Regions from separate parts of the Homo sapiens genome. Here all the other regions are reported to be linked to region 1. The links are microRNA targets in miRTarBase. Many come from high-throughput screens and were not tested one by one. Region 1 holds a microRNA gene; each other region holds the end of a gene's coding sequence.

Region 1 (7,121 bases):
CAGGGCGGTGGAGGCGACGCTGTGTCTTCCCAGCTGCCCTGCCTAGAGGCCCAGGGTGCAGGCACCGCCACCCACCCGTGTTCCCTATCCAGGAGTGGACCCACATCACCCTATACTACTTCCATCGATGGGTGGGGGTGTCGCCTAACGGGCAAGTGTGCCGGGATCCTCAGGCTACTGGGAAGGAGGCCAGAGATTTGCTCTTTGGCCTCTGGTTGGGGCCAACATGTCCCCAGGACAAAGCTCTCTGTGGCCTCACAGAAACCACCTGCCCACCCCCTCTGCCTTGGACCCCCTCCCCACCCCACGACTGCCCGCTCCACCAGGCCCCCTTTGCCAGCTGGCACCCAGCAGTGGGTCTGGGAGGGGTGGCCAGGAGGTGAGCGCCCTCCTCCCAGGCCCCCAGTCCATCCACTGACACAGCAGCTCACGTTTCATTTTTATTGTGCTGGGGGTCAGGCAGCAGCCCCCACTGAGGCCCCACCCAGCCTCCGGGCTGCCTGGCCTGTGCCATGGGTCCCAGGCTCCAGCAGGGAGCTCGTACCTTCCCTCAGCTGAGGGCCCACCTGGCCTTGGGATGCCGTTGGGGTAGCCAGGGTGGGGGTAGCCAGGGGTGGATTCACAGAGAAGATCCCAGCCCATCCCATGCCAGGGTCTGGGGAGCCTCCCGAGGAAGGGGAGGAGGAAGAGGAGGAAGGCCCTGCCTGGCCTTCCGCTCAGTCACCCCGAGGTGGTTTCTGGACCCCCAGCATGTTGGGCAGGGGCATGGGGGCTGCAGGGCGGCGTGAGGGGCTCAGTCCAGCCTGGGGCGCTGGGCAGTCACGAGTCTTTCTTGCAGGAGCCTAGGGTTGGATGAGGCGAAGGTCAGAGATCACTGCTCCCCACAGCCTCCCCGCCCAGCTAGATCTGACTGGCCCCTTGGCCTTTGGTCGCCCCCGACCCCCAAGCCTGGGTAGCCCCTCTAGGCCCACTGGGCCCAGACCCGGGAGGAGGGCTCTGGAGGGTGGGGGCACTCACAGGACCCCAGCTGCTCCTCCAGGAAGGAAATCTGCTCGCTCAGGGAGTCGATGCGGCCGAGCTGCTGGAAGGAGTGCACCAGGAGGCTGCCGGGGTCCGGGAGCCCATGCTCCAGTGCCTGCGAGGCCAGGCTGTGCAGTGGGGCCAGCACCAGCTGCAGCTTCTGTGGGTGCAGAAGGGCAGTGACCCTGGGCCGGCCCCCGCCCTCTCTGCTCCACCGGGGTCTAGGGAGGACCCCTGGGAAGGGCTCCACAAGCCTCCAGCCCCCGCCTCCGCGGCAGGGCTCCAAGTGTCCACTAGAGGGGGCTGCCGTGGCAGAAAAGCTTGCCGCAGAGTGGGTGCCTGGGGCATCAGGCTGGCGGGGTGGTCCCAGCCTTGGGGTCCCTGGCAGGAGAACTAGGGGGACAGCTGGACCACTGGCCAGTGGGAAGACTGGCAAGAGCTCTTTGTCCTGGTGGGGACAAAGATGGGGGGGTGGGGAGGTCTCGTCTGGGTCCAGGCTCTGTGTATTGTCTGGGGGGCTGTCAAGCTTGGTTCCTCCGGCCCTGGGGGGTCCTGGTCAGTGTCCAGCTGCTTCTGCCCAGCATGGATCCAGGCCAGGGCCCCCTCGGCAGTCAGCAGCGAGGAAGCCACCTCCCCAGGGCCAGGACCTTTTCAGACCACCCCCAGCCATCCGTGGGTCGGGACCATGTCCCAGGAGACTACGGAGCCTGTACCCGGGCCTGGGCCTCTGCTGTTGTGAAGACCTGCCCCCTGCCGACGTCTCACCTCCTCCAGCAGGTCCACCCTGGACTGCCTGCCTCCCCCCCCGACGCCTCATCTCCTCCAGCAGGTCCACCCTGGACTGCCTGCCCCCCCGACGCCTCACCTCCTCCAGCAGGTCCACCCTGGACTGCCTGCCCCCCCGACGCCTCACCTCCTCCAGCAGGTCCACCCTGGACTGCCTGCCTACCCCCCCGATGCCTCACCTCCTCCAGCAGGTTCACCCTGGACTGCCTGCCCCTCCACACCTCACCTCCTCCAGCAGGTCCACCCTGGACTGCCTGCCCCCCCCCCCCCCCACCAATGCCTCACCTCCTCCAGCAGGTCCACCCTGGACTGCAGCCTCTGCACTTCTTCCTTCATTGCACTGTCCACTCCTGCGGGCAGAGCCAGGCGCTGGGTCACGGCCGGCCGGCTCCCCACCCACACCCCCAGGCTCCCTCCTGTCCCCAGGGAGAGGCAGAGCCAGAAGACTCAGGCCCAGGCCTCTGCCGCCCCCGCTGCCTGCCTGGCGCTGGCCAGAGGTCTCAGGGCTATGCCGCCTAAGTACGTCGGGGCGGGTGGCTCTGCGCAGAGGCTCAGGGTCCCGGCCACGCTGAGGGAGGTCAAGGCTGAGGTCTCAGCGGCGTTTTCGATGCGGTGCCGTGGACGGCGCATTATTACTCACGGTACGAGTTTGAAGTGTCACAGCGCGTACCAAAAGTAATAATGTCCCGTCGCCAGCGGAGGCGTGGCGTCTTCCAGAATGCTGCGCTGGATGCAGACAGGACCCCGGGACGGGGCACTTCTGCCTTCTTGGCTGATATGAGGCTCCGGGCAACCTGCCCCCAGTTCTCGGGAACCCACCTATCCTCCCTCCCCATCCTCCCTCCCTGGAGAGGGAGTCCCCACCGCCTTCCGCCCAGATTCCAGTGCCCCCCACCATGCCTAACAGCCACACGGCAATGTCCACTGCCTGCCCGCCTCCCCAGGCCAGGCACAGCCAGGGCTGTTTACCTGTCGGGTTGGGGGCCACCCTGGGGGGCCCTCCCTTGGGCACACAGAGTGTACCGTCTGCAGACAGGCTGTGCCCCTCCCAACACTGGCACCAGTAACTGCCGGCGGTGTTGACGCAGCGCTGGGGACAGCCGCCCCTCCTAGCACTGCATTCATCCACATCTGCAGGAAACGGGGTGTCAGGCGGCCATGCCTGCGGGAGGGGTCCTGCCCACACAGCTCCCTTCACAACCACCCACTCATGGGCCAGCAGTAACCCCAGGACATGCAAGGAGGTGCCCAGGACCCTTCCAGGGCCCCCCAGGGTAGAGCCAGCCTCACCTGACTGGCAAGTGTCACCCCGCCATCCTGCAGGGCAGCGGCAGCGGCCAGGCTGGACACAGCTCCCTCCGTTCCGGCATGGCGGCTGGCATATTGCTGTGGGCGGGGGAGGCTGGTCACCAGCTCAGTTGGGTCCCCAGCACCCTGTGGGGGCAGCTGCTAGGGAGTGGGTGCTCTGCGGCAAGGTGGTGCTTTGCTCGGGGTTCAAGAAAAGCAGCAGGAGCGTTGCTGGAAGATTGGGGAACAGTCGCCCTCCTAACACCGGGCGCCGAGGGACATAGCCCTCACCTGCTCCACAGGCCCCAGGAAGCCCGCTGGTCCTCTTCCAGCCGGGGCAGCACGCGTAGCGAGGCCTGGCAGGGGCCAGCCCAGGGCTGCGGCGGTAGGCGGTCCTATAGATGGTTCTGTGGGGTGGGTGGGACAGCTCAGAGGGGCATCCTACTCCCCCTTAGTCACCTGCTGGGCATCTAGAGTCCCCTCTCAGAGTGCACAGGGTCACCCCAGCATGCCCCCAAGGGTCTTCTCCTCAAGGGATGGCACTGAGGGGTCACTGCACAGCCGTTTCCCTGCCTGGGCCTTCCGGTGCTGGCCGGGACTCAAGCCACAGCAGGAAGGCCCAGCCACACTCCGCATGGAGCAGAGGCAGTGGCCAGGCCTGTGTGTGCCCCCACCTATCTGGTCTCCTACTGTGGGGGCATCCAGGCCCAGAGGAGAGGGTGTGCCCGGCCTACGGCGAGTCACGGCAGAGTGTGGGCCCTGGGCATCGGAGCCCTTCTTAAACCTCCAGAAGTCTGAATTCCCAGGCCCCTCCCCCAGCAGGGGGTGGAGCTCCCACACCCAGGAAGGAGGACTCTGAGACTTAGGGGTGTGTGCCCCTTGTGTGGGCATACAGGACATTTCAGGGTCTCATCTGTGCCCACTGGGGGCCGTCATGTGGAGGGGGGTGCCCAGTGGAGTGGGACCAGGGGAGTCAGGCACCATTCTGTGTATATGGGAACTTGCAGCCAGGGATGCCAGGGTAGGGAGGGGTTAGTCCCCCGGAAGTGGAGGGGTGCAGACAGGATGGGTGACCCCTCTAAACATGGGGATGCTCTTAGAGGTGCGGTCCTTTGAGACGTGTCGGGGCAAGAGCAAGGATTAGGACACTGGAGGTGATCGTGGAACCCCTTGGCTCCGGCCGCCCTGGGTCGCCCATCTCAGGCAGCCCTCTCATGGCTCTGGCCTCAGTTTCCCATCTTGGGTCCCAGGATTCACCCCCGCCTCGCCCCTGACATGCTGATGTGTGGCCGACTTGGGAGGCTGGGGCTGGGTGAGCTCGGTGTGGTGGGGCACTCACCGGTAGGTGCTGCAGGCCCGGTGCCCGTCGCAGGTGGTGAGGAAGGGCTGGTACACACGCTGCACGAACGACTCGGAGACAGGGTCCCCGTGAGCCCGGACAGCACACACCCTACGGCTGCGGGGGTGGAGAGGGGGTCAGCCCAGGAGTCCCAGAGCAGGACCCAAGAATGATGGGAACATGTGGCCGGGGCAGGACCCTCAGCAGGAGCCCCCAGGGAGTCCCCGACAGGTGCTGAGGGCCGCCTCTAGGAGGTGCTGAGGGCTCCCGGTCCCCCCACCCCAGCACTCCCAGGCTAGGGCTTGGCTCACCCGGGCCGGTAGGCGTGCTCTGTGCCGCCCACTGCCAACACCAGAAGCCACATCAGCAGCACCTCCTGAGAGCCCCTCATGGCCTGTGCCTCCAGGCGGGGTGGCCTTCTCCTCTGGGTGGCCTGGGGCACAAAGCATGACCCCTAAGTCTCCCCGCAGATGCCCCCAGGACGCGGGTGCAGTTTGCACTTGCTCCGCGAGGCCTGCCCAGCTCATCTCCGCTGGAGCCTCCACCGGTGGGACAGCCCCACGGTGGCGCCCACTCTCTCCTCCGCTGGCCCCCTCTTCCAGCTAGCCAGACCCTCGCCAGGCACAAACAGCTGGGGCCACAGCCTGGGGGCACAGGGGGGGTGACGCTGTCCAGAGCTCTTGGTGCAGGAATCGAGTGGATCCTGCTGGGCATCTGCCCGAGGCTCCGGGAAGGATGGCTCCAGCTACGGGTGGCCGTTTCTCCTGTCCTGCCTGGTTCCAGGGCCCTCCTCACAGCAGGGCAGGGGTGAGTTTGCACCCCAGTCTATGCAAACGGGGTGTTCGTGGGCAGAGCTGGGATCCAGCCCCACCAGGGACCTGCCGGCCTCAGCCCTTCTGGAATTTGATTTCTCATCTGAGTGTGGAACCGGCCCCAGCAGGTGGGCCAGCAGCTGCAAGCCAGCAGGAACCGTGCGGAGGGTGCACACATTCTAAGACCACCAGAGGGGCGGCCTTCATTTTAGAGGGGGTCCTTCCCAGGCTGGGATATGTGTGCAATCAGCCTCCAGGGATCCTGGGACAGTGGCTGTGCCAGGTGCACACCTGGGGGTGAGGAGCAGCCCCCGACAGTGTCACCGGAACCGGAATCCAACCCCCTCCTGGCTGTGCAGCAGGAGCCAGGGGCCCGGGTGAGGCTTCCTGAGAGCATGAGAGCCCAGAATTAATGGTCTGTGGCAATGCCGGGGATGGGGATTCTGTCCTATGCGCAGCCAGGGGTCTGGAGACCTGGCGAGCCCCTGCCATGCTGCAGGGTCCCACCCAGGGCCTCTCACGGGTGCTTCCCAAAGGCTGGGTGGGTTCCTTCCGAGGCACTGCAGGGCCCTCCGCAGGGAAAGGCCAGGCTTCGGGTCGGGGCAGAGGCTGGGGTAAGGCTGTCCCTTCTCTGGGATTCAGTTTCCTCACACACTAGAATAGGGTCTCTGAGGCCCCTCCTCAGCTCTGACAGCCAGTCCTATAAATAGTCACACTGTCCTCAGTCGCTGCTGGCCAGCCCCACTGGGTGTGGAGCACGATCCCACACCTGCTTCCCACGGGCACTGCCAAGGCATCACCCGGTCCCAGCGGGGAGGGTGGCTGGGGGTCCTTCCTGGGCCTCCAGTCCTCTGTGCGCTGGAGAGAGGAGGGCAGGGCAGAGGCTGCCAACTAGGCAGAGGCTGCCCTGGGCAGCTGAGGGGTGGGGACTTAGCTTGGGGGCAGGGGGGGCATCACAGCAGTTTTTGGGCAGGAGTTTGTCGAGGGGGCAGAGCTGGCTGGAGATTAACTCTGGGGATGGGCCCTGGATGAAGGACACTGTTAGGGGCTGGGTCTGGTGCGACCTCAAGGCAAGACTCGAAGTCGGGGGACATTGGGGAGTGGGACCCGGGAAGGAAGAGGTAGGGCAGCGGCCCGGCGGCTTGATGTGGGCAGGGGGATGCCAGGGCGGGCCTGGGGGTAGGCGAATCTCCCAGACCTCATTGCCCCCCACACATATTGGCACAGCTCCCCCCCACAATTCCTGAGAGTCGCCTGGACAGGAAGCGGTGCTAAGTGGAGACTCAATTTTTGAAAGTCATGTTTTCCCGAGGCCAGAGGAAGCCCGTGGTGCTCTCCGAGCCGGTGCTGCAAGCCCCATTTCCCCGGGGGGGGCCACGGCCTCGACCCAGGGGTGCCGGGCGGGGAGGGGGCGGCGGCGCCAGGTGGACCAGCAGTCCGGTCCCCGTGCCCCCAGCGCCCACGGGCTCCCTCCCCACCTGCCCGGCAGCAGCCCCGCAGCCCCCACCCGCGAGAGGCCGGGTCCGCAGAGGGAGGGGCCTGGCTGCGCCGCAGGCACTGGCGGACCCCTCGCGGCGGGAGCAGGGCTGGGGACCGCGGGGCCCACGAGGGAGGGCGCAGAGGCGGAGCGAGACGGACCTGCCCGCCGCCCCCTCCCAGCCGCGCTGCTGGCTCCGGGGTTCGCGGGGGGCGGAGCAGGCGGCACAGGCTGGGCCCCGAGGCGCTGAGTCGCGCCGGGTCGGACGAGGGGCCGCGGCGACCCCGGCCCTCCCCGCCGCGCCGCCCGCCCGCCCGCCGCCGGCAGGGGGAGCCGGTTCCCGGGGCCGCTGGGCCCATTCTCCCGGCCCGGCCCGACCCAGCCGCGGGCGCCCCGGCCC
Region 2 (7,121 bases), not on the chromosome of region 1:
AAATTTTCCTTGACAAGTCAAAAATGGCCTTATAATTAGTAAACGAATGGTCAGTTTTCCATCTTTATTTGATATACCTGCAGCAGGAGACTGTTAAATAATTCCTTATTTAAATTTTTATTTCCTTCTTCATAATGTCTTCCTTTTTCACAGGTTTATCACATAGAAAAACAGTCTTTTGGAAACTGTACAGTGCTATTAAAATATCCAAATTATTATGGCTATTGGGAGGCTAGAATGAGATCTATATGAAAAGTTGAAGAAAAATTTTAGTACCTGTAAACATACATGCTGTTTTTTTTCTTGTGAAATGAAAGTATTCTTGTCATCTAAGTATTTCTTATTTTCAAGCATGGTTCTTGACTTAGACACATACGGTCCCTTCCAGAAGCCAGTGGTTTAGGCTTGTGGCCATGTTTCATGGGCTAGGAATGTCCAGGCAGCCGGAGTAATCTCTGTTGTTCTCTTCTAGGTATTTACCTTGCTGTGGATTGCTGACTGGATGGTCCATCACTTCTGGAGGAAAGGAAAGGACCCGGATAGTTTCTCCATCCCCTACCTAACAGCATTGGGTGATCTGCTCGGGACAGCTCTGTTAGCCTTAAGTTTTCATTTTCTTTGGCTTATTGGAGATCGAGATGGAGATGTTGGAGACTAATAAATTCTACAAACTGCTCTCAAGTTACCAAGGAAGAAAATACACGACAACCACTTATGGCTCTTTTTCAAAACTCTTAAATCAGTAGTTTGACTTTTGCCAGGGTAATCTTCAGTTGGCCCTGATTCAATTAAATGGCCTTAATTTTTTTTTAAGGAATTTGTGTCAAAACCAGAATGAAGAGTATTCGTGCTGCTTTTCATAGAATAAATGATAATTTGACATAGACATAGATATAAGTTCCAGCTCTGAAATTAATTAGGAAAGAATATAGGATGTTTACAGTGAATAATTTTAAAACCACAAACATAGCAGAAATGTACTTTATTATTAAATTTGTAATGCAGGATTAGAAGAAGCAGAGCTCTAGTTTAGCCTTTCTTGTCTCACAGATGTGCTGTATCCCAGGCATACTATAAAACGAAGAGTGCCCAACCAAGCTTTGAATCGTATTAACAATGCCCACCTCTATGCTAGCTGAGGATAAATTTACCAGTTGCTCATATTTAAACTGACCTAAATATGTTTTGCTGAGCATAAGATAAACTCACTTTTACCTCCATCTAAAATTATCCTGTTCTGATGCCAATTCAATTTCAGCTCTGCAAGTTCTTGTCAGGCTAATCTTTAAACATTGAGTGATCTTGAGAGATTGTTAATGAAAGCAGTGAGTCATTTTTTGATGATTGATTTGTTGGAAAAATGTTGATGTGTTTTAAAAAATGTAATCTTCAAAAACAGAATATAACCTGAGATGCATTTGTAGAGACAAGACGGTACGAGAATGTGTGTGTGTGTGTGTGTGAGAGAGAGAGACTTTTGATGAAGAACTAAATCTTGGATTGCTGATAGCAAAGATCATAGTGCTGTTGGAATATCAGCAATATAGAGTTATTCTTAAACACATTCTATTAACATGTTTTTGTCATTGGGTCCAAAAATTTTGCTGCTGACCAGAATTTACTATTTGTTACCTATATTCTTTTTTTTTTTTTTTTTTTTTTTTTTTGAGACAGAGTCTTGCTCTGTCGCCCAGGCTGGAATGCAGTGGTGTGATCTCGGCTCACTGCTACCTCCACCTCCTGGATTCAAGTGATTCTCCTGCCTCAGCCTCCCGAGTAGCTGGGATTACAGGAATGCGCCACAACGCCCAGCTAATTTGTTACCTACACTCTAATTAATAATTAATAATTTCTTATTTTAAAAAGTAGTACTATTTAATATAATCAAGATAGGAGATTTAAAATGAGCAAGTGATTCATTTGCTCTTTTAAAGAAGCCCGTTGACTTACGCTTTTAAAAAAGAAGTTGGTGGGTTACCTCAATTATTGTTCATGCTTAAACATATCCATTTGTACAGGCTTATTTCTACGTGGGACCCAATCATATATACTATATTTCTCAAATAATTTTTCTAAAACTCTGGCCTATATTCTAAACACTTGACCAACACCTTAGTTATTGAATAGGTAACCATTTTTAAAGTACATGTGGTTCATTTTTTAAAATTCAATCTCTCAAGACCGTTAGATATTTAATAATTTAAGCTGATAAGGGTATCAAAATGCACATTAACTTTGATCATCATGATTTAAGTTGTAACTTTGTGTTATTATATAAATATTAGGTTGTTTATAAATATATTGCAGAAAGTATTCTTGTTAAGCTCTTTTAAATGAGGGGACTGTGGTTTAGAGTTATATATTTTTGCTTATTTTTAAACTTCAATTATTCCATTCTTCTGCCTTATAATAAAACTTTTAAGGCAGAGAACTGAACTAATTATAGAATTTCTCCTTTGGAGAGTTATAATGTTACATAGTGAACATTCTTATAAAAGAAAGAATAAGTTTAAGTTGATGAATATTTAGCTGCAAAGATTTTTTACTTAAAAAAATCCATGAATATCTTTGATTTTATTATAAAGCATTTGTAAATTATTTGCATTTGAGCTGTAAGATTCATAAACATTTACATTTCCCAATGATTTCTATTTTGATTTTTAAAAAATATACAGGGCAAGCTACATTTTTAAAGCATTAATCAACAACTTTATTATATTACACATTCCAGTGCACAAACACACAATATCATTTAATACTCACAGTAGTACCTGTGAAATATATCAGATGGATATTCCTATCTCTATTTTACAGCAGAGGAAACCGAAATTCAGAGAACTTACATTTCTAAGGTTGTACAGCTGCAAAATGACCAAATTGTGAAGTCCCTAACATCCAGGTTTTCATAATGCCAGTACTCTTTCTATGACATGTTTATGACCCTCCAAATGTACCAAAACTACCTAACTAATTCACTGAGAGGAAGCCAACTGCAAAAATAGGATTTTTAAAAGTACAATAGAGTATTACTACATTTTATGGATTTCAGACAAAGAAACCTCCGTTTATTATATCCTGATGGTGAGTATTGCCAGCTCTAAATTATTCATATTTCTAAGACCAAGGAAAATATAGGTAAATGAAAATTTTGAAATAAAGAACAATGCCTTAATTTGTAAAATCTATCATTGCTACCACCCTGCCCAGGTCTGGCCATTTGCCATAAATGCTGGTAAATAAATACAATGACTGATAGAGTTCTGTCTCCTTTCTCTTTTGCTACCCAACCTTGGTTAGAGCAACCAAATGTCTAAAAGGCATGTAACAGGAGAAAAAAATAAAAACATTAGTCACCAATTCGCCGATTATAAAAGGGATGTAGATTCCTTTAAATTATTACTGACCTTTTGAAAGCCTTCACGTAAGTATGCAACAGATAAAATGACTCATTTACCCACAACAATAATCTATTATCAGTCTTAAGTAATGTGAATTCACTGTATTTCTTTTTATACAACATAAAAACTTCTGCTTTCCAAACTTCTTCCTTTTCACTAATTTATCAGCCACTTTATTTATACACAGATAACACTTTTAGAAACATTTTTCTTTCTTGTCCATTTTTTTCTTTCAAAAATAAAGTTTCTTAGAACCTGATAAAATGGAAACTTATGGTAATATGTGTTCTGGTAGGTGTCCAAAAATTCCACACCATAGACTATCAATGATATAGCCAAATAAAGGCCATTCAAAAAAATCAGTAATTGGGATTCCTTGCCTTATATCTATGGTATAGTGTACCCATTTATAACGGGGTTCTGCCATCTTCGAATTGTTTTAAACTCAAATAAAGAATAAAATTTAAGAAATAATTATCCAGTCTTGTTATGCTTACTTCTTGATGAACTAGAGAACATCAAGCCAGTGTGGAAATCTCCCAGAAGAGACTGGGGTAATTTATGTATACATATGATATTTATGAATTATAATAAATTGGGCTTTGACCATATCTAGACCTCCAATGCATTGCTTTACTACTTTTTGACTGTCAAATACTCTCCTCATTTCTTCACTCCTCTCATTATCCAGCTTACATTGCTTGGTTCATCAGTCCATACATCTGCAACTGCCTCTCTCATGCTGGCAGGACAGAATACAAACTCTGGATAAAGACAGCTCTCTGTGTTTTGCCTGTACCTGAGTGCTCAATATGGCTCATGAAAAACACACAACTCCTCTGACAGATCTTTAAATTTATAACCTCAGACATCAAGTTAACCCCCAACTGCCCAGCAACCTACTCTGTTTCTCTAATGACTTTACTTTCTGAGAGACAGGTCTTTGTCCCCAGCACTTTACTGAAAGCAAACTTGTTGTCAACCTAAATAGTAAACAGAGAGAAGGTTTCTAAAAGAAAATGATATTCAGGAATAGGCATTGCAATGGGAATACACGTGCCACAGTGTTCCCACTGCATATGAACTACCTGCATATTCAGGGAGGTAAAGGAAGGAGGAGGTTTTTAAAGAAGGATTACAAATTATTTTGAGATAATTATCCTTGGCTACAAGGATCGACAGCAAGCATAACGCCAGTCTGAGGTTGAACAGGTGTTTGCTGGGCGGATATTCTCACAGAAGTATTTTTTGTGTGTAAGGTTGCAATGGCCATTGTACAAGGTTGTGGTTTTTGCAGAGTCTTTTGTGATGGTTTTTGTTACTGGGCATTTATGCATGAGAAACCTTTCTTCATGGCCTTCTCTGGCTCTATTTGTCAGAGTTTTATTAACACAAGTGACTCCATTATGTTTCTGACAAGTTTCACATTTCCCCCTTTTGATCAAGATATTTCTCCAAAAGCATCACTGACCAATCATCCTGTATTCAGGTGTTGATAGCTCCTGATGCCAGGATGGGCCCGTCCTGGGTTGCTGATCTGGTCCTATGTTAGAGAAAGTGAATGGTGGCTAGGAGTCCGTGTCAAAACCCTATTATCCACGTTTGAGCAACAAGGGAGGTTTGAAGGGAGTGGATCTCAGGCTAAGTCTACCTGGAGTCCATTATTAAGTTCAATTTTTTCTGTTCCATAGTCGTTTGCTGTTATCTCAAAGTGCTGGGCCAGCATTGTTCTGTTAGGAGTTCTACTTCTGCAAAAATTTAACAAGTAATAGTGCAAACTTTAAAAAGGAAATAATAGTAATTTGAAAATCCCTGTTTGCATAATGGTTTTGAGCTGTGAATCTAGGCTTAAAGACAACTATTTGAATGAAACAAATGACCATAGGGAATTAGGTAAGACCTGTTGTAACCATGTGGCTATGTTTTTATTTTGCTTATATGGGTTTCAACTTTCCCAGAGGGATTTATCCGGGTACAGCATGCAATATTTGCAATAGCACAGAAATTTTCTTATTTAGCCAGTAAATAATATAGAGCTATTTATCATCTAGTATCCCATGACTGGGTTGAATTAAAGCAAAAGGTGAGCACCAATTGTATTAAGGATGTTGCCAAAGTCACCCAATAAGTGGGCTAAGGAATCTTTTAGATTAGTTTCTGTCTAGTTACTGGCAGAAGCTACTGATTAAGAAATTTACACCATTATCCAGCCAAGTGAAAAAGGTAGCAGTAAGGGAGGTCAGGGTCTTGTTATGATATAGAGTCTTGTGCCAATATCTTGGGAAAAGCTGTCTACAGCATGAAAATGTCAATTTCTTATCCTGTTTGCAGTTTGAATGTCTCTGGTTATGGCATTAGGCAGTTTGGTGAACTCTTTGTGTGGCTCATACATCAGGCACAAGACTTGTTCCTTAAAATTTATCATTTCAGCTTATAGAGATTTAGGAACAGAGCAGTTCCTGTTTTTAGTAATTCCATGGAAGAAAGTTGGATTAAAGGAATATAAAAGAATTCAGGATCTAGTCTACTCTATAGGTAAATAAGAACCTGAAAACAATGCACAGAGCTATAATCTAATAGCAGATGTATTATAGCTTTTTCTTTATAAATATAACTATTTCTGCCTATGTTGATCACACAGGAATCTCAGATTTAAAAACCTCTTGAGGCTAGGAAACCAAACTAAGGAAGACTTTAGATGTTACCTACAGTCCTAAGGCTCCTGAGCCTGCCAGGAAGTGAGTTTTTATTCACCGTAAGGCTGAGAACCCTTGAAGTCAGGTATTCTATGCATATTCTCCAATCTATTTCACTCAAAGCCTTGGTAATATAACCAGTATTTTCATTGTATCCAGTTATAGAAAGCAGATTTTTACTGAATTTATGCAAATAACCATGAATAGTTCCCACATTTTGGAGGCATCAAGTAGGTAGAAAAGCAATTGCTTCCATCTTTGTTCACACGAGTACACTTTACCAAATTTCTGTAAACTATGGATAACTAAGAAAAAAAAAGTTCCTTCAATCTGGAAAATAAAACATTTAAGAACCAATAATGTTTCAAATAAACATAAAAACATCTTCATCAGTTACTTAATCTCATGTAATTAATTTTTGTTTTGCTTGATCTTATCTGTTTTATGAACCCATCAGTTTCTTCATTAAATTTTTGAAAATTTTTTATGTAGTCCATTGATCTTACAGTTATTAGAAACCTGTATTTAAGAGTAGTTGTTAGAGTATTTTTCATGAAACTAATTGCAAATGCTTTTGGAGAAAAATCAAAACAATAATTGTGAATGACAGAGACTTAAAATAGCCATGGTTAAGAATCTGACTTTGATTCATTACAATCAGCAATTGACAAGGAAATTTGGTTATTTTATGGCATACAATATAATAACCAGAATTATGGCCAATAAGATATTAGATTTCTAAGAGTTTTGTACAGTTGGGGACATTCATATCAATAACATACCCATAAATGTAACTGAAAGAAAACCTAGCATCACTTATCATTTGACAATACTTCCCGTACAAACAAGCCTAGTCACTTAATATCTCTACAAGATGAAAGATACATCCTTTGAGGCTCTCCAGTGGCCCACATGGAAAATCCTGAAGTTAATTCTAGGTCAAAAAGATTTAATTTAGAATGTTGATCCTGGAGAAGCCTGCCAAAGATGCCAAAAAGTTCAAAATACTTGATCAAAACAGGATCGC
Region 3 (7,121 bases), not on the chromosome of region 1:
TATAATAAATTCATTCTATAAATTTAAATAAAAATATACCTGTTCTAATTAAGTGTGGATTTACCTACTACCTTTGGAAAGAGCAGACATTGATAAATAACTTACTTGTTTTTATGTATTTCTTTGATAAGCGTTTGTTACACTATTGTTACGTAATAGGTTTTAGGCTCTAAGCTAACAATATAGGTTTGACAGGCTACAACTGACAGCCTTTGGTTAAACATAAACTCATTGGGTTTCCATATAATTGTGCATTTAGAAGAATACTTTATTGCTTTAAGACTTTTTGGAAACGCTGACTTGTAAAGTATCCTATGTCTTTGAGTCAGCTGACTCCCATCTTTTACTTTTGCAGGGGCCCAGCTGGAGTAAGAGCCCAGGCCCTGGATAGAGATGGAAATCTGGTAGAAGATTTTGTATTTGATGCAGGAGTTGGGGATATTGGAAATCGCATTCTTCATGTGAGAAATGCACCTTCTCCTGCTGCTACTTCTTCCATTGCAATTTCTGGAATGATTGCAGATGAAGTACAACAAAGATTTGAATTATAAATAATGAAAGGAGCTAGGTATGCACTGTAATCTTCATGTCAGCAACAAGAATGTACTAATTGCATTCTTTAATTTAAAAAATGGTTTTTAAACTTTAGTTTTTAGGTCAAAGATAACCACTGCATTGTTAAAATGATGTAACATAGAAATAATAATTTTCTACAAAAATTAGCCAGGCATGGTGGCGCATGCCTGTAATCTCAGCTACTCAGGAGGCTGAGGCAGGAGAATCAATTGAACCGAGCAGACGGAGGTGAGCTGAGAGCTGAGATTGCACCACTGCACTCCAGCCTGGGTGACAGAGCAAGAAAATAATAATAATAATAATTTTCAAAATGTTAGGCTGGGGGCCGTGGCCAGCACTTTGGGAAGCCAAGGCAGGTAGATTGTAGCCCAGGAGTTTGAGAACAGCCTGGGCAACATGGCAAAACCCTGTTTCTACACAAAGTTAGCTGGGTCTGGTGCCTCTGTAGTTCCAGCTCCTCAGTAGGCTGAGGTGAGAGGATCACTTGAGCCCAGGAGGTCTAGGCTGCAGTGAGCTTATGTTCATGACACTGCATTCCAGGCTGGATGATAGAGCAAGATCTTGTCTCAAAAAAAAAAAAAAAAAAAAAAAAAATCCAGCCTGGGCAACATAGTGAATGAAACCCCATCTCTACAAAAAATACAAAAATTAGCTGGGCATGATGGTGTGTGCCTGTAGTCCCAGCTACTTGGGGGCTGAGGCAGGAGGATCGCTTGAGCCCGGGAGATCAAGGCTACAGTGAGCTGTGTTCATGCCACTATACCCCAGCCTGGGCAACAAAGTGAGTCCCTGACTCAAAAAATAAAAACAACAACAAAAAATAAATTCCATGCTTATTTACTTTGCGAATAAAGAGGCAAGGTACAGTTTTATCTGTCCGAATCCCTGACTTTTATTTATTTTTTTTTTCAGACGGAGTTTCACTCTTGTTGCCCAGGCTTGAGTGCAATGGTACGATCTTGGCTCACTGCAACCTCTGCCTCCCGGGTTCCAGCGATTCTCTTGCCTCAACCTCCTGAGTAGCTGGGATTACAGGCGCCCACCACCATGCCTGGCTAATTTTTTGTATTTTTAGTAGAGACGGGGTTTTGCCATGTTGGCCAGGCTGGTCTCGAATTCCTGACCTCAGGTGATCCACCTGCCTCAGCCTCCCAAAATGCTGGGATTACAGGTGCGAGCCATCATGCTCAGCCCTGAATCCCTGACTTTGTTAATGACCTGTCCTTACCAACCATGACCTAGAGAAGATTTGGCTTTTTAAGAGTTTTGGAGAAAGATGGCATAAAAATAGATTATTTCCTTAAATCAATTTTTTAGCATTACGCTACCTAAGCTCGTTTGGTCTCTCATAGACAAGAAAATACATTATATTGTAGGTTACATTCTTTTAATTTTGAAGAGTCACAAAACTCACATTATTTAGAGCAACAATATTTGTATTTGGAAATTAAAAATTCATGATTTCAAGAAAATACATAAAATTTACATTTTTGAGTAGTTTGAATAAGTTTCTATCTTAATTATAATATTTGTAGGAAATAACAAAACAAACTCAAAGCCTTTATTATTTCCAGTCTCTTTGTAACTGATGTGGTATGGTATCATCATGAAATCTAAACAGTGGTACACTGAGTGGTTGTCCTGTTCTTCAATCTCTGTGGCTGAGAACTGAAATAACTTAGAAGAGACAGATTTTTATGAGAGCAGTTTTAGAATCCTGACACTGATGTATAGAACTCCAATTTAAAAAAGTTATTTATCTATTATATCTCTGATCTTTAGTCACACTAAGGCTCTCAAAATGTTGGCCAAGATTGGTAATGATTCATACGTACTTGATTTTTCAGGGCTCCTATAAACTTGTATAGGGATATTTTTCCATTTTTGATAAATATCTAACTTTGAGGCATTCACTTTTGTAAACCGCGAAAGTGCCTTACATTCACCTCATGAGTATTTTAAGTTGATGCCCAGTGCTGTGGTATATCCTGTATATATGTGTTTTGTGGTATCTATCGAAATTATTCTTATAATTTAGAAAGTTAGAAAATAGAAATTGTAAATGAAAATGTGGCGACCTGACTGCAGAACTTTGAGTACTGAACCACATTTAGGTGAGGCATTTTCATCCATTCTCTCTGATTTGCTCTCTCAGGATTCATCTTCTACTGTGTATGTCTTCTTTCCTCTTAGCTCTCCAAAGCTGTATGATGGATGGGTGAGAAGGATGTGCATTTTGGTTGATAGGAAAAATGTTTCTGTTTTCTTCCTTTTCCCCTCACTTCAAGCATTGATGATTACATTGATTGAGCTACCTCATCCATTAATTTGAAAGGCTACACTTCATCAGCTCATGTTTAAGAAGTAGCACATCCCAGGTAAACAGAGTAGGCCATTATTCAACTCTTAGGATGAGTATATTAAAAGCATTCAGATATCAATGACAGAAGAAACAAGCCCTAATGTTTCTTTATAACAGCTGATTCCTGCAAGAAATGCAAACACAGGATATTTTTCTGTTCCATTACAAGATTACTAAGAGATGGAAAATATTATCATTCTGTATTTTGTCAGTAGTACGATTGCATACATACTAAGTTGTAAACATTGAATTACAAAAAATGATTGTCCTAATTGAAGCAGTCCTCAATCCATTTGAGTCTGTACAATACCCTGAAAAGGAAACAACAGGTGCTGGAGAGGATGTGGAGAAATAGGAACACTTTTACACTGTTGGTGGGACTGTAAACTAGTTCAACCATTGTGGAAGTCAGTGTGGCGATTCCTCAGGGATCTGGAACTAGAAATACCATTTGACCCAGCCATCCCATTACTGGGTATATACCCAAGGGACTATAAATCATGCTGCTATAAAGACACATGCACACGTATGTTTATTGTGGCACTATTCACAATAGTAAAGACTTGGAACCAACCCAAATGTCCAACAACGATAGACTGGATTAAGAAAATGTGGCACATATACACCATGGAATACTATGCAGCCATAAAAAATGATGAGTTCATGTCCTTTGTAGGGACATGGATGAAATTGGAAATCATCATTCTCAGTAAACTATCGCAAGAACAAAAAACCAAACACCGCATGTTCTCACTCATAGATGGGAATTGAACAATGAGAACACATGGACACAGGAAGGGGAACATCACACTCTGGGGACTGTTGTGGGGTGGGGGGAGGGGGGAGGGATAGCATTAGGAGATATACCTAATGCTAAATGACGAGTTAATGGGTGCAGCACACCAGCACGGCACATGTATACATATGTAACTAACCTGCACATTGTGCACATGTACCCTAAAACTTAAAGTATAATAATAAACAATATATATATATATATATATATAAAATACCCTGAAAAATAAAAATGAAAAATTTGTTGAAAGTGTTTTGAATATGTAGGTTATTCTGCTTGTAAAACGTTTTATATGTATGTCAATAGGGTTTTTTTGTTTAATACTGATATAATAAAGTTTTATGTATTTCTGACAGAAGAAATGTATATTAATATTTAAAATATTTTAATGAGCCTTGGTGTTGTAGAGAACATATTTTTTAGTTCCATAAAAACTTTTATGCAAATAAATTTTTTTATGTGTAAAACATAAACTGTTTGCTTTAGATAGATAGCAGCCAACCTTTTTAAAAAACTCATTTCTGTGTTAGTATATAATACAAAATGAGGTTGAGTCATTTATATTTTGGGTAAAAAGTGGAGCATTTTAGATTTTAACTTCAGAGTGTTTGTGAGGAACTCTTGATGTACCAGCAAGTATATTTTTGGTGTTTCATGTTACGTAGCTTAACTCTTTTATCCATACATATATGTGTATATCAAAGTCCTTCCCTTGATCCTCTCAGCATTAGCACTGTTTGGGGAGTTGCCTTTACTGTTGGCAGAATTCCACTTTCCCTGAGGCCATTTGGAAATCTACCTAGTAGCCTGTGGGATAACCTTAACTCTTAGAACTTTCTTCAAAGGATGGTGGTGAGAATGGGGTATACTGCCAGGCCCTGGCCTACGGGAGTTTGTAGGGCCTACTTTTGGAGGCAATCCAACCCTGATGGCTGTACCTATGAGCTATCCCTGTAAACACAGGAGACATGGTGTCTATATTGTTTAAGGACTGGCTCTGCCCTCCTGGGCCCTTAATCTGTGTCTAGACTTCTTGGTCAGAGGTTTCCTCATCTTTCTGCGCATACACTATTATCTAAAGATCTTGTAAACATTTTTGAGTTGTAATCGTAAAGTCAGTTTCTAAGCTTTTCTAACACACTCAAAGGGAGTTTTTGAAATCTCTTCATCAGGGCTTAAGGTAGAAGGACAGGGTGAAATGGTTGGGAAAGCAAAAGCTGCCTCGAGATGTTTTCAAATAGTTTGTACTCATTAAATAGCTTAAGAATGGAAATAAACCCTGAAGCCCTGAAGGGAAGAACAGTGTTGATACCAACCAACTCTACTTTTCTGGCCTCAAATCCTAGAAAGTATTGTGGGTTTGTTGTTGTTGTTGATGTTGTTAATTGCTTGTATTTTCTGCTTATGGGAAGGATCTCACATTAAAGTTATCTTATTTTAAGTTTCTTTTGTCCCTGGGATAAAATGAGAAAATTTACCTTTTAGATATGGCAAGAGATGGCAGGTCTTGGGTTGCTCAGGAAGCCCAATTTTGAATATTAGGAAAGACCTGAGGGACAATGATAACAGAGGGACCTCTCTCACTAGAGAACCTTGAATTTCAGCCAACTTCTGCTTAAAACTGTATCTTTAGAAAAACCTCTTTTAACTTTGTTGCTCTGAAGCACAATGAAATGGCTACAGCAGTGGTTGTTTCTTTTACGCCTTTCAGGTTTAATTTTCTGTAAATTTGTCCACTGGGAATATAAGAGATGTCTTTTAGGGATATCAGTTTATTTTTTAATTTTTATTTATTTTTCTCTTTTCTTTTCTTTTTTTGAGATGGGGTCTTGCTCTGTTTCCCAGGCTGGAGTGTAGTGGGACCACCTTGGCTCACTGCAACCTCCGCCTCCTGGATTCAAGCGATTCTCCTGCCTCAGCCTCTCGAGTAGCTAGGATTACAGGCACGCGCCACCACACCCAGCTAATTTTTTATGTTTTTGGTAGAGATGGGGTTTCACCACGTTGGCCAGTCTGGTCTGGAACTCCTGACCTCAAGTGATCCACCCACCTTGGCCTCCGAAAGTGTCGGGATTACAGGCGTGAGCCACCACTCCCAGCCTTTTTATTTTTTTTTTAAGACAGAGTCTCACTCTGTCACCCAGGACCCAGGCTGGAGTGCAGTGGCATGATCATAGCTCACTGTAGCCTCAACATCCTTAGTAGAGACGGGGTTTCACCATGTTGGCCAGGCTGGTCTCGAACTCCTGACCTCAGGGTATCCACCTTCCTTGGCCTCCCAAAATGCTGGGATTATAGGCATGAGCCACTGCACCCAGCCTTTCTTAGATTCTTGATCAGTCATTCCAGCTGGGACCTCCTGGATCCTTCTAAATACTCAAGTAATCTTCCTGCTTTAGCCCCCTGAATAGCTGAGACTACAGGTGTGCATCTCCATGCCCAGCTAATTTTTTTTTTTTTTTTTTTTTGAGGAGACAGGTTTCACTATTTTGCCCAGGATGGTCTGGAACTCTTGGCCTCAAGCAATCTTCTTGCCTTGGCCTCCCAACGTGCTGAGATTACAGGCATGGGTCGCCACACCTGGCTGTGATATCAGTTTATAATAATAGCAGGTTCTTTAGTTTGTTTGGGTTTTTGTTGTTGTTTTGGTCTCTGAGTAGCTTCCCAAATCACAGGGGCCACGTACTAATTGCTCTTTCCCAGAATGCCTAGATCCTTAACCTTTGCCTATGTTTTTCTTAGATGCTTTTTTTTTCCCTTTTTTTTTCTTTTTGAGACGGAATCTCACTCTGTTGCCCAGGCTGGAGTGCAGTGGCATGATCTCAGTTCACTTCAACCTCCGCCTCCTGGGTTCAAGCAGTTCTCTTGCCTCAGCCTCCTGAGTAGTTGGAACTACAGTCACACACCACGATGCCCGGCTAATTTTTGTATTTTTAGTAGAGATGGGGTTTCACCATGTTGGCCAGGCTGGTCTCGAACTCCTGACCTCAGGGTATCCACCTGCCTTGGCCTCCCAAAATGCTGCGATTATAGGCATGAGCCACTGCACCCAGCCTTTCTTAGATTCTTGATCAGTCATTCCAGCTGGGACCTCCTGGATCCTTCTAAATACTCAGAACCAAGCATGTTGGTTATGTTACAGGCCAACAGTAAAAGGTTGTCTTCTGACATCCAACTTTGTGCTTTGGAATTTAGGGATATAAAGATGCTTTTTGCTTCTACTTTGCATGTTAGAATTTTGTGGTTGGTAGTGAACTTTTGAATATACTTTTATTTTTGAATTCTCTCCAGAATTACTTGGTAAGTTTTCTGGAATTAAAGAAAAAGCCTAGTGTTAAATGTTATTTTAAAAGAGTTGATGCGACATTGAGGATTTCAAGGTTCTAC
Region 4 (7,121 bases), not on the chromosome of region 1:
AATGCCTAGCCATCTCTCAAAAAATGTACATCTATCCTGATTCAGCAATTCCACACCCGTTTTCATCTCAGTAATTACAAAAACAAAAGCTACTGTGAGAACATTTATAGCAACTTTATGCATGAAAGCCAAAAACCAGAAAAGGCCCAGGTTTCCATGAATGGGAAAGCATACCATACTCGGCAACATGGAACTACTGATGTATACACGGCTAAAACTCAAGTACTTTGAGATGATGGTAATTATCCATCATTGATAGAGTATACATTTCTCAGTTCATAAAACAGTACCCTTAATACTTGAGTATTTCAGATTTAAATGTTATCTTAAAAATTGATTAAAGTTGAACTAATTGATACAAAAGTTCAAGTTACTTTTCAGGAAGTATACTGACATGTGCAACATAAAGTATTGACGGGATGAGTAGAGAGATGTTTTCCTGGAACAATAGGTATAGAACTGGCTGCGCGTTGTAGCTCACACCTGTAATCCCAGCACTTTGGGAGGCCAAGGTGGGCAGATCACTTGAGTTCAGGAGGTTCAAGACCAGGCTGGCCAACATGATGACAACCCCATCTCTACTAAAACACAAAAATTAGCTGGGTGTGGTGGCGCACGCCCGTAATCCCAGCTACTTGGGAGGCTGAGGTAGGACAATCGTTTGAACCCGGGAGGCGGAGGTTGCAGCGATCCGAGATGGTGCCACTGCACTCCAGCCTGGGGGACATGGTGAGACTCCATCTCATTAATAAACCCCCCCAAAAAAACAGGTGTAGAGCTGAGATTATTTACAGAATGACAATACTTAGGGCTTTCTCTGCCATCTTAATGCTTAGCTGCATTCTTTCTCCATGTGCTGAGTTCTGTTCAACTGACTACATAACCCAAATGCAATGCCCAGTTTTAGACACAAACGAACATCAACTAGTCAGATATATACAGGACACTAGGTAAAGCAGAGAAACTGAAAACTGCAAATTCAGAAGCATATTATCACATGCATTGCTTGACCCAAAGTATTTGGAATCCACAGCCACAACTGAGTTGTTGCTGACCTGTTTTTCCCCAAGAGGTAAGCAGGAATTACATAAAAGCACTACAGTTGACTCCTGGTTTATTTAGCCTCTGCTTCTTAGGTGTGTGATTGTGCTTCCATTTAACTTTTAGGGTGAGGACTGAATGAAGTCATCTACATTCCCCCTGAAGCTCACTCTCAATAAAGGAGGCCTAGTCACAAAAACAGCCTCAATGACTCTGGACATTCCCATGCAAAACTGATTAAGTGCCATCAATGCAACAGAGGTAGTGTTTGGGGGAGGGGGACATGGGAAAAACATTTAAAAACATAAACCCCTAATTTCTAAGTAAAGAAGAGCCCCTTGCCACAAAAAAAGATGCCATGTTAAAGTTTTATTAAGTTTCAATACAAAACATTCCAAAAAGTGAAAAGTGATCTATAATACCCAAGTTCTATGTTCAACTACCAGTTAAACAAGGAAAACATTTTCTGTATCATTCTGTTTTACAACCAGTATAAACCCAGAAGAATCAAGATCTGATTCCTTTTCCACACATCTGCTAGGTCAGTAAACTATCAAACAGGTATCTGGTCATTTTAACATACTCCTTATATTCCTATTTGGTACAATCTCTATATCCTATACTATCTTCAAGATATCTAAATATCTTAAATATTTAGGGTATCTCAAGAGCCAGAAGGTCCTCACAGAAGCGTTAACCCAAGTAATCGTAAGAGTATAGAAAGATTGGGCTAAGACAACTATGGAGTGCAAAAACCACATAAATTTGGTCATTACCCTTGTGGTCTGTGATTAGTAGTAGGTTGTCAAATGAGAGTTAAAAATGTTGTATTATCCCTAGTTGCAAATGTTCCAAATAAGACAGTGCCATAACTACACGACAAAAACAAAAAAAAAATCATATAAGTTGGGTTAGTTCCTCTAATCCAACAACTCAAGTCTGTTTCCTTTGAGAACATTATACTATTGGCTCTAGTCTCCAAACCAATAAAAAACTAAAACTTGTTTCCAAGACTGGGAGGTAAAGTAGGCTTATAAAACAATACAGCAAAAGAAAGCCAAGTGGCCTAATTGTTTCCAGTGTGCTTGCCATCTTAGCATGGTTACTTTCCAGATGTCACTCATAAGTTTTATTCTACAACTAAACTGTTTGTGGATAAGCCACCACCAAAAAATGTTTCACTTACTGACAGACACTTCACTAGATACAGCTACCACTTATATCCATCATTTTTATAATTCAACTTAAGTTCTAAATTGAAGAGTTGTCCCCATGACTTTAGCTAAACAAAATGAAAGCCAAAGCTGTAAAATCTATGTGAAGAACCACAAGAACTTCCTGACTACCTCCACTTACCAATTTCCTTAATTACTTCCCCTTTTCCATTTGGTCAATTACTTGCTTTAAGTAACTACCAGTCACTCCCTAGTTATGAGTGTTAATCAACACTGATGCCTTCCTCAGATCCACAGGAACCCCTGAAGGCAAAATCTATTGCCTGCACCAAACCAATTCTGACAGCACTGCTTATGCAACTGTAGTGACTTATTGACAATCAGCCGCCTTCTGCTTCAACAACTCTGTAAAATGAAAAACATGGGATCCTGTTACATAGTATTTGTTTTACTGTAAAGTACTTCCCCCCAAACTATCATTTAAATATATACTTTTTTGTTGCTTTAGCTGAAAATAAAAGTAACTGCTTTAAAAAGCAAGCAGGCGCAGTGGCTCACGCTTGTAATCCCAACACTGGGAGGCCGAGACAGGCAGATCACTCAAGGTCAGGAGTTTGAGACCAGCCTGGCCAACACAGTGAAACCCTGTCTCTACAAAAAGTACAAAGATTAGCCGGGCACGGTGGTGCACACCCGTAGTCCCAGCTACTTGGGGAGTCTGAGGCAGGAGAATCGCTTGAACCTGAGAGGCAGTGAGTTGAGAAGCCATCTCAAAAAAAAAAAAAGAAAAAGAAAAAAAGAAAAAAAAAGAAAGCCGCATGCAGTGGCTCACGTCTATAATCTCAGCACATTGGGAGGTCGAGGCGGGCGGATCACCTGAGGTTAGGGGTTCAAGACCAGCCTGGCCAACAGTGAAACCCTGTCTACTAAAAATACAAATAATAATAATAATAATAACCGACATAGTGGCAGGCACCTGTAATCCCAGCTACTTGGAAAGCTGAGGCAGGAAAATCACTTGAACCTGGGAAGCAGAGGTTGCAGTGAGCTGAGATCACACCATTGCACTCTAGCCTGGGCAACAAGTGCAAAACTGTCTCAGAAGAGAAGAAAAAAAAAAAACCACGCAAGCTTAAAAAATCAACCATAGGCGGCCAGGTGCGGTGGCTCATGCCTATAATCCCAGCACTTTGGGAGGCGAGGCAGGCAGATCACAAGGTCAGGAGATCGAGACCATCCTAACACAGTAAAACCCCATCTCTACTAAAAATACAAAAAATCAGCCGGGCGTGGCAGTGTGCACCTGTAGTCCCAGCTACTGGGGGAGGCTGAGGCACAGGAGAATGGCGTGAACCCGGGAGGCAGAGCTTGCAGTGAGCCGAGATCGCGCCACTGCACTCCAGCCTGGGCAACAGAGCAAGACTCCGTCTCAAAAAAAAAAAAAAAAAGGTAATATTGAAATTACATACTATGTCGTCATTATGTCAATGTCAATAAAATTATGTTAAACAGGGAGCTTGCAGCCACAGTTGCATCATTAACTCCACATTTAGTCAATTTGTATTGTAGCTATGCAAATGAGCAAGCACTAACTAGTAACAACGAAAGTATATCCTTTTACAAAATGCACTGAGCAAATTTTTTTTTTCCTCTTCTTGAGACAGGGTCTTGCTGTTGCCCAGGCTGGAGTGCAATGGCGTGATCTCGGCTCACTGCAACCTCTGCCTCCTGGGTTCAAGCAATTCTGCCTCAGCCTCCCCAGTAGCTGGGATTACAGGCGCACACCACCACGCCCGGTGTTTTTTTTTTTTTTTTTTTTTCTAGTACAGATGAGGTTTCACCATGTTTGCCAGACTGGTCTCGAACTCCTGACCTCATGGTCTGCCCGCCTTGGCCTCCCAAAGTCCTGGGATTAAAGGCACGAGCCATGGTGCCCAGCTGAGCAAACTTCTTACGTGTGTACTTCCTTGTTGAGAATGCTTGCATATGAAGAGCTATAAGCAAGCTTTATGGGTTCAAAAATAGCTAAGAATAATCTCATGAATGAGCCAGACTCACGGAAATGTAACCTCACTCTAAATTCACAATGAATGTGTCAGGCACTACACATTAAAGCACTTAACTTCATCAATTCCAAGCAGCGTTTTCTTTTACAGATGAAGTGAGGACCACAATAACTTGCCAATGTCACAGCTAAACTAAATGGTAGTTACACAACATTTAAACCTTCAAAGGCCATTGCTTTCAACACTTACCTTAGCATTTCTTACTGCCAGCTTTATCTACTGTGAATCAATCAGCACTCCACGACCATAATGAGCAAAATCACCAACCTGCAAAAGTTAAATAAATGAAAACTAGTTATCTCTCTTAAGGAAATTCTTTTAAAACTTGCCTATTACTGCCCTCTTTTCCAGAAAGAAAAGGCAAGTTCAGACTTGCAGCTTAATATATTTCATGTTCTACTATTTGTCTTAAGTGGTGGAAGATTCACTGGCTCGGGATGGACTGGAATGGCTTAAATTGTTAAGTTGCATGGCTTATGGATTGTCATTCTGTTCCAATGGTGCACTGCCACGTTAAATCCATAAGTTGAACGAACAAAACTTATTTGAAGGAATAAGTGCAGTATAAGGATTTTTAGTTGGAGGTCTTCAAGTTTACTATATTCAAGAGCATCTTTTTCAACTTCATGGCTGGACCTGGGTCATGCTGCCTCAGGTTTTGCTTTTTAAAGACCACTTGCAATAGATTTTCTCCATACAGTGTAGTTTCATAGAACTAAAAACAAGTCAGGCATCCAACTAAATGTCAAGTTTGCAATGGCTTACAGGGGTAAAAAGGGGGACCCCAAACTTAAGCCATTTCCTATATTGACTAAAAGACTAATTTGAAAAAAATGTTAAAAACATACGAAGCATGTTTAAAGGTCTTCATCAAAAATGGACTTTGAAAAAAATACCCCCTCCCAAGCCCCAGATCGCCATTGGTAAACAACAGCTCTATTAATAAAGCCTTTAAGTGTCACACATGCTTTAAAAAAAAAAAAAAAAAATCCAAGTGTTGAATTTGGAGGACTTCTAATACGCTATTGAATATTTCTTTTTTCCAAAAGTTTTTTTTAATCTAGAAGGCATTTCCATTGCCTTGAGGTACAGTATGTTTCACTGTACTATGAGGAAGGTAAGTGTTCAATTTCGACTTAGACGGAAAAACTAGTTTGCTTTGCTTACCATCTTTGCTGTTTCACAGGCATTTGATGCTTTAAATCTGATGTGGAATGCTGATAGATTCACTTTTTAGAAGTCATAAGCCTTTAGGAAGTTGGAGATAACTTCATTGCTTATCTATTTTCTCCTTTGCAATCAAGCTGTTCCTTTAAAAGTGAGACACTACAGAGTTGCAAAAATTTGAAACAGTAAGAGCAAGCACCTTTGCAGCTTCATGGTTGGTTTTGGCCAAACTTTTTATTTAGTATTCTGTAGTTGTTTAACACACACTTAAATGGTCTTATTGGGGGAAGGGAAAGGGGAGGTTCTTGCAGATTCCCAAGGAAATGTCAGAAAGGCAAAATGGCCAGCATTATCCATTTGCTTTTTTGGGTTTACTGGGTGAATAGCACTTTCCTTACATAGGCATGTGATTTCAGGTTTTTCGTACTGAGAACATTGAGATTTCAGTTGGAAGACACCCTGAAATCTTATGAGTAGCATACCCCAACCACCCTCTAATAGCTAGCTTGTTTGTATAGGTAGAATGATTCATCTCTCCATTTTAGATGGCTAGATGTTTTGTGGAAGATCTTAGAATTGCCTGCCTCATTTGCTGGGAAAAATCAGATAGGAAGTGGCCTTTAGGGGATACTTTTACTTGGAAAGTTACAACACTAGTACAAGTCTTAACACATTTAACATTTGCTTGTTGAAAAGCAATGCGAAAGTCAAATAAAATTAAACATGTTTTACTTTTTTCCTCACAAGAACATAAAAATTATGGAGGGGAACTTAACAGGGAATTTAAAAAAAGTAACACAATTTTTCCTTTTAGTAGTCCTTGGGTAGTTATGATAGAATAGTTTCCACTTTTTGTTTCTTTGAACTGGGATTTTGGTCCAAAGTTTTGTTTGTTTCTAGTATCTGCTTCTGCCTCCCCCTCTATCAGATCGGCTTCCTCCACGGCCACCACCTCTTGGTGCTCCGCGGCTTGAACTGCTGTAGGAATCACGTGGAGGAGGGTACCCCCTTTCCATAGAAGGGGGAAGCCCTCTTTCTTGTCTGCCAACCCGATCACGACCACTTGAGTAGAGATCACTTCGGCTGCTTGAGTAACTGTCTCGACTTCCACCATATCCGTCACGTGAGCTGCTGTAATCATCATAGCGACTGCTTCCACCATAAGATGGCGGGGGCCCTCGTGTAGGTGGAGCACTACGTGAGTTACCTGCAGGGTCAATGGTCAGGTAATATGGCAACACTATAAATTGTATATATACAACATTTTAAATCTGAATTTACAGAATTCTTGTATTAAAAGTTTACTTTCTCAACTGGGTGGGAGGTTTTAAACTCTGCCATTGCTGGCCATAACAGGGATTTGCTCATCTGCTGAGATATGGAATTGGATTCATTTTAATGTTTGTTTGAAAAGACTGAAGACGGTGTGTATTTCAAGAGGATATTCCAGAGAGCTTGTTATTTTATAGTAGACACTCAGCCACTTTCCAGTGATAAGTTGCAATTTTGAACTGTAGAACTTGCCTTCATATTGCAATGGTAAATATTTGATCTTGTTAATAAAATTTTTAAATTGTATTTTCACTGTTGGGGGAAAACACATAAGGCTGCCAATTTAAGCAAGCAAAATCCCCTCCAAAGCAAGCAAACAGCCTCAAAAGAAACTTAGAAA

What was found. The annotated mature microRNA hsa-miR-126-3p reads UCGUACCGUGAGUAAUAAUGCG and lies in region 1 at 2,432-2,453, opposite strand. An mRNA with a match to its seed (bases 2 to 7 or 8) in the 3' UTR can be bound and repressed. Matches are read on the target gene's strand: a 7mer-m8 pairs with bases 2 to 8, a 7mer-A1 pairs with bases 2 to 7 and ends in A, and an 8mer does both.
Region 2: miRTarBase lists SLC41A2 as a target of hsa-miR-126-3p. Seed matches in the 3' UTR shown: 8mer at 1,433-1,440.
Region 3: the mRNA of L2HGDH is a reported target of hsa-miR-126-3p. Seed matches in the 3' UTR shown: 7mer-A1 at 1,527-1,533.
Region 4: the mRNA of RBMX is a reported target of hsa-miR-126-3p. The part of its 3' UTR that is shown has no 7-base or 8-base seed match.

Annotation. Positions count from the first base shown.
Region 1 is chr9:136,665,985-136,673,105 of GRCh38, reverse strand. MIR126 (microRNA 126) reads right to left here and starts at 2,504; the gene lies at 2,420-2,504. It overlaps EGFL7 (EGF like domain multiple 7), which reads right to left. Exons shown (of 11, transcript NM_016215.5): 4 at 4,744-4,865; 5 at 4,433-4,549; 6 at 3,385-3,500; 7 at 3,097-3,192; 8 at 2,776-2,937; 9 at 2,092-2,156; 10 at 1,018-1,180; 11 at 428-842. The coding sequence starts at 4,823. The coding sequence ends at 820. RefSeq lists enhancers at 2,672-3,171, 3,172-3,673.
Region 2 is chr12:104,798,689-104,805,809 of GRCh38, reverse strand. SLC41A2 (solute carrier family 41 member 2) reads left to right here. Exons shown (of 11, transcript NM_001352171.3): 11 at 473-4,009. The coding sequence ends at 658. Among named protein-coding and RNA genes, the nearest start is that of SLC41A2, 160 kb to the left of the region's middle.
Region 3 is chr14:50,240,488-50,247,608 of GRCh38, reverse strand. It overlaps L2HGDH (L-2-hydroxyglutarate dehydrogenase), which reads left to right. Exons shown (of 10, transcript NM_024884.3): 10 at 356-5,175. The coding sequence ends at 551. Among named protein-coding and RNA genes, the nearest start is that of SOS2, 12 kb to the right of the region's middle.
Region 4 is chrX:136,867,797-136,874,917 of GRCh38, forward strand. RBMX (RNA binding motif protein X-linked) reads right to left here. Exons shown (of 9, transcript NM_002139.4): 9 at 5,665-6,656. The coding sequence ends at 6,346. Among named protein-coding and RNA genes, the nearest start is that of SNORD61, 7.9 kb to the right of the region's middle. RefSeq lists an enhancer at 6,212-7,121.